Linked DNA regions of Homo sapiens. The protein of the gene in region 1 purifies or fractionates together with the protein of each later gene. This does not show direct contact. Each region holds a gene or a part of one and is shown on either strand. Other genes may lie near its edges.

Region 1 (3,500 bases):
TGCAGCCTTGACATCCCTGGCTCAAGAGATCCTCCCTCCTCAGCCTCCTTAGTAGCTGCGATTTACAGACACATGCCACCATGCACAGCTAATTTTTTTTTTTTTTTGAGATGGAGTTTCGCTCTTGTTGCCCACGCTGCAGTGCAATGGCGCCATCTCGGTTCACCACAACTTGCACCTCCCGGGTTCAAGCAATTCTCCTGCCTCAGCCTCCCGAGTAGCTGGGACTACAGGTGTCCACCACCACACCCAGCTAAATTTTGTGTTTTTAGTAGAGACGGGGTTTCACCATGTTGGTCAGGCTGGTCTCAAACTCCTGACCTCAGGTAATTCACCTGCCTCAGCCTCCCAGAGTGCTGGGATTATAGGCGTGAGCCACTGCACCTGGCCACAGCTAATTTTTAAAATAATTTTTGTAGAGATTGAGTCACTGTGTTGCCCAGGCTGGTCTTGAACCTCTGGTCTTGTGTGATCCCTCTTCAGCCTTCCAAACTGCTGAGATTACAGGCGTGAACCACTGTGCCAGGCTGAAATTGGTCATCTTAAGATAAAGACAGTGCTGTTATTACCCATTCCCAGTTTCACAGTTTACAAGGCTGTTTGATGGTAGCAACTATTCTCCTTTTATACAAACAGCCTGGACTGGATGCCTCTTGGGCTTGTCTATGTGAATCCTTTATGATTAGTCTGATGAAGATTCTTTGGAGCAAATTTATCTTTTTCTAAGGTACATCCTTTAATGACCCTTTTATCTCAGGGAGAAAGAGAGTAATGATAATAACAGTAACAAAATAAATATTAACTACTATGTACCAGGCACTGTTAGGCATTACAATTGTTTGTGCATTCACTCATCGAACCTTTGCAACATCACTAAGAGGTAGGAGCCCCATTCCCGATTTATAGATAAGTAGGTTGAGATTTGTAGCTTTACCGAGGTCACACAATAAGTCCCAGAGTTGGAACTTGCCAGCTGGTCTCCAAAGCTGGGGTTGTTAACCAAACCAATATCTACCTGTGAGGATTGGGCTGTCTTTTGATGCAGGAAGTAGGGCTTAGAGAGGGCCAGTGTCATTCTGGGTTAACTGTCCTGTTTCGGCTTGGTCTTCTGTCCTTCAGGGAAGCTTGTGGGCTGTGCCATCATCCATGTCAATGGAGACAGCCCAGAGGAAGTGGTCCGTGCCACACGACTGGCTTTTGAATACCAACGCCAGTTCCGCAAGGATGTGATTATTGATCTGTTGTGCTACAGGCAGTGGGGCCACAATGAGCTGGATGAGCCATTCTACACCAACCCCATCATGTACAAAATCATCAGGTACAATTATAAACCCTTGTGTGATATGCCCCCTAAAAATTAAAATTACTATTATTATTCTTTTGAGATGGAGTCTTGCTTTGTCACCCAGTCTGGAATGCAGTAGCACGATCTTGGCTCACTGCCATCTCCACCTCCCGGGTTCAAATGATCCTCCTGCCTCAAGTGATCCTCTTGCCTCAACCTCCCGAGTAGCTGGGATTACAGGCGTGTGCCACCGTGCCTGGCTAGTTTTCATACTTTTTAGTAGAGATGGAGTTTTGCCATGTTGGCCAGGCTGATGTCAAACTCCTGACCTCAGGTGATCTGCCTGCCTCGCCCTCCCAAAGTGCTGGGATTACAGGCATGAGCCACCATGCCCAGGCAGGACATGAAACTTTAAGAGCTAAAGCTGACACAGTTCTGGGCTGGAGTGCAGGTGGCACAGTCTTGGCTCACTGCAACCTCTGCCTCCTGGGTTCAAGCAATTGCAATTCTTGTGCCTCAGCTTCCTGAGTAGCTGGGATTACAGGTATGCATCACCACGCCTGGCTAATCTTTGTATTTTTAGTACAGACAGGGGTTTCGCCATGTTGGCTAGGCTGGTCTCAAACTCCCGGTCTCAAGTGATCCACCTGCCTTAGCCTCCCAAAGTGCTAGGATTACAGGCATGAGCCACCGTGCCTGGCCTCCCATACTCTTCACACTTGACATGGTTCCTCATTGAATAGAAAAAGGGCAATAGAAAACTCAGCAGATGGGAAGATTGAAGCAGGGGGAATTAAGCAAACCTCGCCCAAATCTATTTACTGCAGTGTCGGCAGGACCAGAAATAGAACCTCAGTGATTCATTTCTACAAACCATAGCTGCAGACCTGCCTGGCACCTTGGTGAGAGGTAACTCAGAAGATTCTAATGAATGTTCAGAACCATGCTGTCCAAGATGGAAGCCACTAGCCATCAGTGGCTATTGAGTACTTGAAAAGTGGCCAGTCCTGATTAATGTGCTGTAAGGATAATACACACACCATATTTCAAACACTTAGCATGTAAAATATAAACCCAAAATAATATTTTTAAATTTATTAGATATGGAAATGACAATATAATGAGTATATTGACTTAAATAAAATATGTTATTGAAATGCCGGGCATGGTGGCTTATGCCTGTAATCCCAGCACTTTGGGAGGCCAAGGTGGGTGGATCACTTGAGGTCAGGAGTTTGAGACCGGCCTGGCCAACATGGTGAAACCCCATCTCTACTAAAAATAGAAAAATTTGGCCAGGCGCGGTGGCTCACGCCTGTAATCCCAGCACTTTGGGAGGCCGAGGCGGGCGGATCACGAGGTCAGGAGATCGAGACCATCCTGACTAACACGGTGAAACCGCGTCTCTACTAAAAATACAAAAAATTAGCCGGGCGTGGTGGCGGGCGCCTGTAGTCCCAGCTACTCGGGAGGCTGAGGCAGGAGAATGGCGTGAACCCGGGAGGCGGAGCTTGCAGTGAGCCCAGATCGCACCACTGCACTCCAGCCTGGGTGGCATAGCGAGACTCCGTCTCAAAAAAAAAAAAAAAAAAAAAGAAAAGAAAAGAAAAGAAAAAGAAAAATTAGCTGGCGTTGTGGCGCGTGCCTGTAGTCCCAGCTACTCGGGAGGCTGAGGCAACAGAATCGCTTGAACTGGGGAGGCGGAGGTTGCAGTGAGCTGAGATTGTGCCACTGCATTCCAGCCTGGGCGACAGAGCGAGACTCGGTCTCAAAGAAAAAACAAGAAGAAAAGAAATTAATTTCACCTGTTTCTTTTTATCTTTTCTAACGTGACTGCCAGAAAATTTTAAATTACTCATGGCTTGCATTTCATTTCTGTCCCATGGTGCTGATTCAGATGGTTAATGTGACGGAGGGGGAATTTGTTACTTTGGAACTTCCTTTTCTAGATACTAGAAAATAAAATAGATTCCCCTCCTCCAAGTTTATTTCCTTATAGATATAAATTAAAGCAGAGGAATACACGTTTTATGAGCGTTTCTGATCCTTGGTACCAGAAAGAGGACTGCTCTCAGAAGAACTAATTGTGTTCTGTTTAGCTCTGAATTTAGCAGCTGAATGACTCAGTGAACCTCAGGGTTCTATTTTATTTTATTTATTTTTTTGAGACACGGTCTTGCTCTGTCGCCCAGGCTGTAGTGCAGTGGTATGATCA
Region 2 (5,096 bases), on another chromosome or scaffold:
GCAGGGTGTGGTGGCAGGCATCTGTAATCCCAGCTACTTGGGAGGCTGAGGCAGGAGAATCGTTTGAACCCAGGAGGCGGTGGTTGCAGTAAGCCGAGATCATGGGGGTTGCAGTGAGCCAATATCATGCCACTGGACTCCAGCCTGGGCTACAGAGGGAGACTCTGTCTGAAAAAATAATAATAATAATAATTTCAGGCCAGGCACAGTGGCTCACGCCTGTAATCCCAGCACTTTGGGAGGCCCAGGGGGGTGGATCACCTGAGGTCAGGAGTTCAGGACCAGCCTGGCCAACATGGCGAAACCCCGTCTCTATTAAAAATACAAAAATTAGCTGAGTGTGGTGGCACACGTCTGTAATTCCAGCTACTCTGGGGGCTGAGGCACAAGAGTCACCTGAACCTGGGAGGCGGAGGTTGCAGTGAGCTGAGATTTCGCTGCTACACTCCAGCCTAGGTGACAGAGTGAGACTCCATCTCAAAAAAACAAAAAGTAAAATGAAAGTGGAAAAAAAATACCTTATAGAAACTGATTAAGGAAAGTGACTCTTCAGAATTTGCTCTGAAAATGCATTCTGGACACAAGCTCCTCAGTGTTCATGTTGTTCATAAGCAGGGAGACGAACGTCCTCAGGGTTAAGCAGCAGAGTTCACGGTTCTGAATCTACATCCTCACAAGCCCCCTGGATATTGCCCTGTTCTGCAGGGGTCTGTGGCTGGGTCTGGTGCCCCCTTGAACCTGGTCTCCTCAAGGACAGCAGCCTCAACTCATTCATTTTGGTGTCCCTGGTGCCTGGCATGGCACCTTGTACTGAGTAGGAGGGTGGTACCGAGCCCACTCACCACCAGTGTGCGGATCTTGATCTTCTCATTTTTGGTGGTCTTGTAGATCTGTTTGAGCAGTGACACTCCATTGGTGATGATGAAGGTGGCGCGGCTGAGCTTCGTGGAGGCATGGATGAGGGCCTCCACGGCCACCAGCTGGTCCGTCTCGCGCTCTGAGCCACATAGTGCCACCATCATCTCCATCACACCTTTCAGTCCCAGCAGCTGGTTGCCCAGGTCAAAGGGGCCCTGCAGGATCCCTGACACTGTCTGGATGGCATTCAAGTTCTTGTCCATGTCCTGGGGGTCAAACTTGCCCCTAAAACAAAGGACAAGGGTGGTCAAGAGAACTGGTCCAAGAGAGTGGAAAGAGTGTGAGATTTGGAGGCAGTAGGATTTGGATTTGCATCCTGGCTCCACCACTCATGTGCTGTGTGATATTGGGCAATTCAGCGAACCTCTCTGAGCCTCAGCTCCTGTAAACTGAGGATAGTACTACTAGTTCTCAGAGTTGTGGTGAGGATAAATGACATAACAGCTGTGTCACAGAGTGTGCCTCTGGGAAATACACTCTGACTCAGGGATTGACATGCAGGAAGTTTATTAGAGAGAGCTCTTGGGAAGAGAAGGAAGCAGGACTGGGGCAGAGGGAGGCATTTTGCAGCTATCACAAAGCCTCAGCCTCCAAGAAGTTCTGGAGCTGGAAGACCCTTCACAGTTGTTCCAAGTTAGAGTGAGTCTTTTTCTTTCTTTTTTTTTTTTTTGAGACTGAGTCTTGCTCTGTTGCTGGAGTGCACTGGTGCCATCATAGCTCACTGTGACCTCAAACCCCTAAGCTCAAGCAATCCTCCCACCTCAGCCTCCTGAGCAGTTGAGACTACAGGTGCACACAATCATGCTCAGACAATTGTTTAAATTTTTTTGTAGAGATGGGATCTTGCTATGTTGCCCAAGCTGATCTCAAACTCCTGGCCTCAGATGATCTTTCCACCTGGCCTCCCAAAGCACTGGTATTATAGGTCTGAGTCACCTCAACTAGCCTGGTGTGAGTGTTTGCATACTGGCTTCCCTGGGAAGGGTGAAACAGCTCTCCCCAGGTGAGACAAGTCCCAAAGAGAGATAACAGCTGAGAGCTGTCAGCTGACAGCCTTTCCAGCAGCTGCTGTGTCTGGGAGGACAGTACAGCATTGACAACAACACAAAAAGGCCTAGCGTGATGCCCGGCACACTGTGTCTCTCTGTGACATGGCCTGGGCCAGTCACTCCCCTCTGGTGATCTGGTCTTAGTCCCTTCCCCTGTTGGTGAGCATGTGGGCTAGATATCCAGGAACGTTCTGCCTTGCTTTCAGAATCTATTATCATCTACTCTAGGGGAGAATCTCTGCGTGGGAATGTCAGAGGTGACATGCCTTCTGATGCTTCTCATCTGCCCAGGTTGGTGCATTGTGGGAAACAGGGCAGATGTGCACAGTGGAAATGCAGCTGTGTATAAATGCAAGAAGGCAGCGTGGACTGGTCAGGAGAACTCCACACCAAGAGTCCAAGACCTGGGCTCTGGTCCCATGTCTGCCTCTGATTGCTGGAGGATCTCAGGCAAGTTCCCCTGGGGAAGAGGACTCAGCTTTGGAAGCTCTGACAGCCCCTCCAGCTTGAGCATCCCATGTCCTGTGCCTCATCTCTCCACTCAGTGCCCAGGGAACCAGCATCCTTCGTAATTAGTTGCGGTCTGACCTTTGAGCTGGCACTGGGTCCCCACACAGCCCCCGCCCCTGATGAAGCGGGATGTATTCCACTCTTGCTAGGGGCAGGCTGGGGCACCATTTGATGAAGGCAGTGACCCCTCCTCTCAGCATTCCACAGGCTGACAGGAGGGAGCCTCAATCAACAAGCCCAAACAAGAACTAGCTGGATGACAGGTAATGGGAGTCAGTTGGGGACCTCATGAGGGACTCAAGAAGTCAGCAGGAAAAGTTGAAACTGAGGTAGAGAAAGACAGAAGCCTTGAAAAGACCTAAGTGAACCAAAGTCAGGGTGAGCAGAAGCCGTGGGGTAGAGAAGGAGTTGGCAAATCCAGGGAGTTGAGAATAGCTTTCACATTATTTTATTTTATTTGAGACGGGGTCTCACGCTCTTGCCCAGGCTGGAGTGCAGTAGTGCATTCAAGGCTCATTGCAGCCTTGACCTCCTGGGCTCAAGTGATCCTCCTACCTCAGCTTCCCAAGTAGCTGAGACTACAGGGGTGTGCCACCACACTTGACTCATTTTTAATTTTTTTTTTTTTTTTTTTTTTTTTAGAGATGAGGGTCTCTCTACATTGCCTGGGTTGGTCTCAAACTCCTGGTCTCAGGCAATTCTCCCACATCGGCCTCCCAAAATGCTAGGATTACAGGCATGAGCCACCACACCTGGCCAGCAGCTTTTTGCCTTTCTTTTTTCTTTTTGAGATGGAGACTTGCTCTGTCACCCAGGCTGGAGTGCAGTGGTGCGATCTTGGCTCACTACAACCTCTACCTCCTGGGTTCAAGCGATTCTTCTGCCTCAGCCTCCCTAGTAGCTGAGATTACAGGCATGTGCCACCATACTCGGCTAATTTTTGGTATTTTTAGTAGAGATGGGGTTTCACCATGTTGGTCAGGCTGGTCTTGAACTCCTGACCTCAGGTGATCCGCGCTCCTCGGCATCCCAAAGTGCTGGGATTACAGGCGTGAGCCACTGTGCCCAGCCAGCTTTTTGCATTTTAAAGGATTTTTAAAAATATGTTGACAGAGACTTATCTGTCCCACAAATACTAAAATATTTACTCTCTGGCCCTTCATAGAAAAAGTTTGTTGACCCCTGGAATATAGAAAGGAAAAGCAGAGTAAAGGCAACGTCTTCACCCACCTAAGACTCACCTGGAGTGCTTTTAAGCATGCAGCTTCCTGAGCCACACCCCAAACTACCGAGTCAAGAGGGGATGTCTCAGAAATCTGAATAATTTACAAGTCTGGGAATCACTGCAATAAAGAATTAAAAGGTCATGCACTGGAGTCACACTGATGCTGGAGCACCAGTGAGGAGACTCAGGAACTGCAGCTGCTGAGGGTCCTAACCCCTGTCTAGCTCTGCAAAGCCACATGAGTCTTAGTCTTGAAAGAACCGGGCCTCCCTCCTTGACAAGCTGACATGTGTTCCTTTCAACCACAGAAGCCAGTGGTAGGTATAAAATATGTCCATGGCTGGGCAAGGTAGTTGATGCCTGTAATCCCGGCACTTTGGGAGGCAGAGGCAGGAAGATTGCTTGAGCTTGGGAGTTCAATACCAGCCTGGGAAACATAGCAAAACAAAAAATACAAAAATTAGCCAGGCGTGGTAGTGCACACTTATAGTCTCAGCTACTTGGGAGGCTGAGGCAGAGGCAGGAGGATCGCTTGAGCCCAGCAGGCTGAGGCTGCAGTGAGTCATGATCATGCCACTGCACTCCAGCCCGGGTGACAGAAAAAAAAAAAAATTAGCCCAGCATGGTGGCAAGTGCCTGTAGTCCCAGCTACCCTGGGAGGCTGAGGTAGGAGGATTACATGAGCCCAAAAGTTCGAGGCTGCAGTGAGCTATGATTGTGTCACTGCACTCCAGCGTGGGGAACAGAGTGAGACTCTGTCTCAAAAAATAAATAAAATAAAATATGTCCAAAAATATGTTGACACCCCTGCCTTCAAAAGCTGAAACCTAATTTCTTCCCCTTAAACATAGGTCAAACTTACTGACTTGCTTCTAACGAATAGAATGTGGCGGAAGTGATGACATGTGTCTTCTGAGGCTAGATAGAGAAGACATCTCCCTGCTGCCTTGCTCTGTCTTGGCTCTCTTACTGTGGCATGCCAGCGGCATGCAGTGAAGACGCTTCAGCAGGCTGCAGAGAGGTCTGCAGGGAGAGGAACCAAGGCCTCCCACCAACAGCCAGCACCAGTGTGCCAGCTGTGTGAGTCCACCATCTTGGAAGCATTTTCCAGCCCCAGTCAAGCCTCCAGATGGCTGCAGCCCCAGCCAGCATATGACTGTAACTTCATGAAAGACCATAAGCCAGAGCCACCCAGCCAAACCACTCCCAAATTTCTGTTCTGGTGTGAGATAATAAAACACTATTGTTTGAGCTGCTAAATTTTGAGATAATTTGTTACACAGCCATAGATAACCAAGACAGAGCCTGACCCTGTGAGGCCTCCAGGAAACTTACGTGATATATTCCTCACAGATCTTGCGGAAGTGATCGCGCTCCGGGTCACAGCGCAGGTC

The links. Proteins that work in one complex are often made in the same cells at the same time.
Region 2: the proteins of DHTKD1 (region 1) and UNC45B purify together in Homo sapiens (affinity purification with mass spectrometry; one large-scale study listed by BioGRID and IntAct). This does not show direct contact.

Annotation. Positions count from the first base shown.
Region 1 is NC_000010.11:12,092,954-12,096,453, forward strand, and holds part of DHTKD1 (2-oxoadipate dehydrogenase complex component E1), read left to right. Parts: intron 1-1,119; coding exon 1,120-1,318; intron 1,319-3,500. UniProt on the Homo sapiens protein: 2-oxoadipate dehydrogenase (E1a) component of the 2-oxoadipate dehydrogenase complex (OADHC). Participates in the first step, rate limiting for the overall conversion of 2-oxoadipate (alpha-ketoadipate) to glutaryl-CoA and CO(2) catalyzed by the whole OADHC.
Region 2 is NC_000017.11:35,164,108-35,169,203, reverse strand, and holds part of UNC45B (protein unc-45 homolog B), read right to left. Parts: coding exon 5,038-5,096; intron 1,144-5,037; coding exon 843-1,143; intron 1-842. UniProt on the Homo sapiens protein: Acts as a co-chaperone for HSP90 and is required for proper folding of the myosin motor domain. Plays a role in sarcomere formation during muscle cell development. Is necessary for normal early lens development.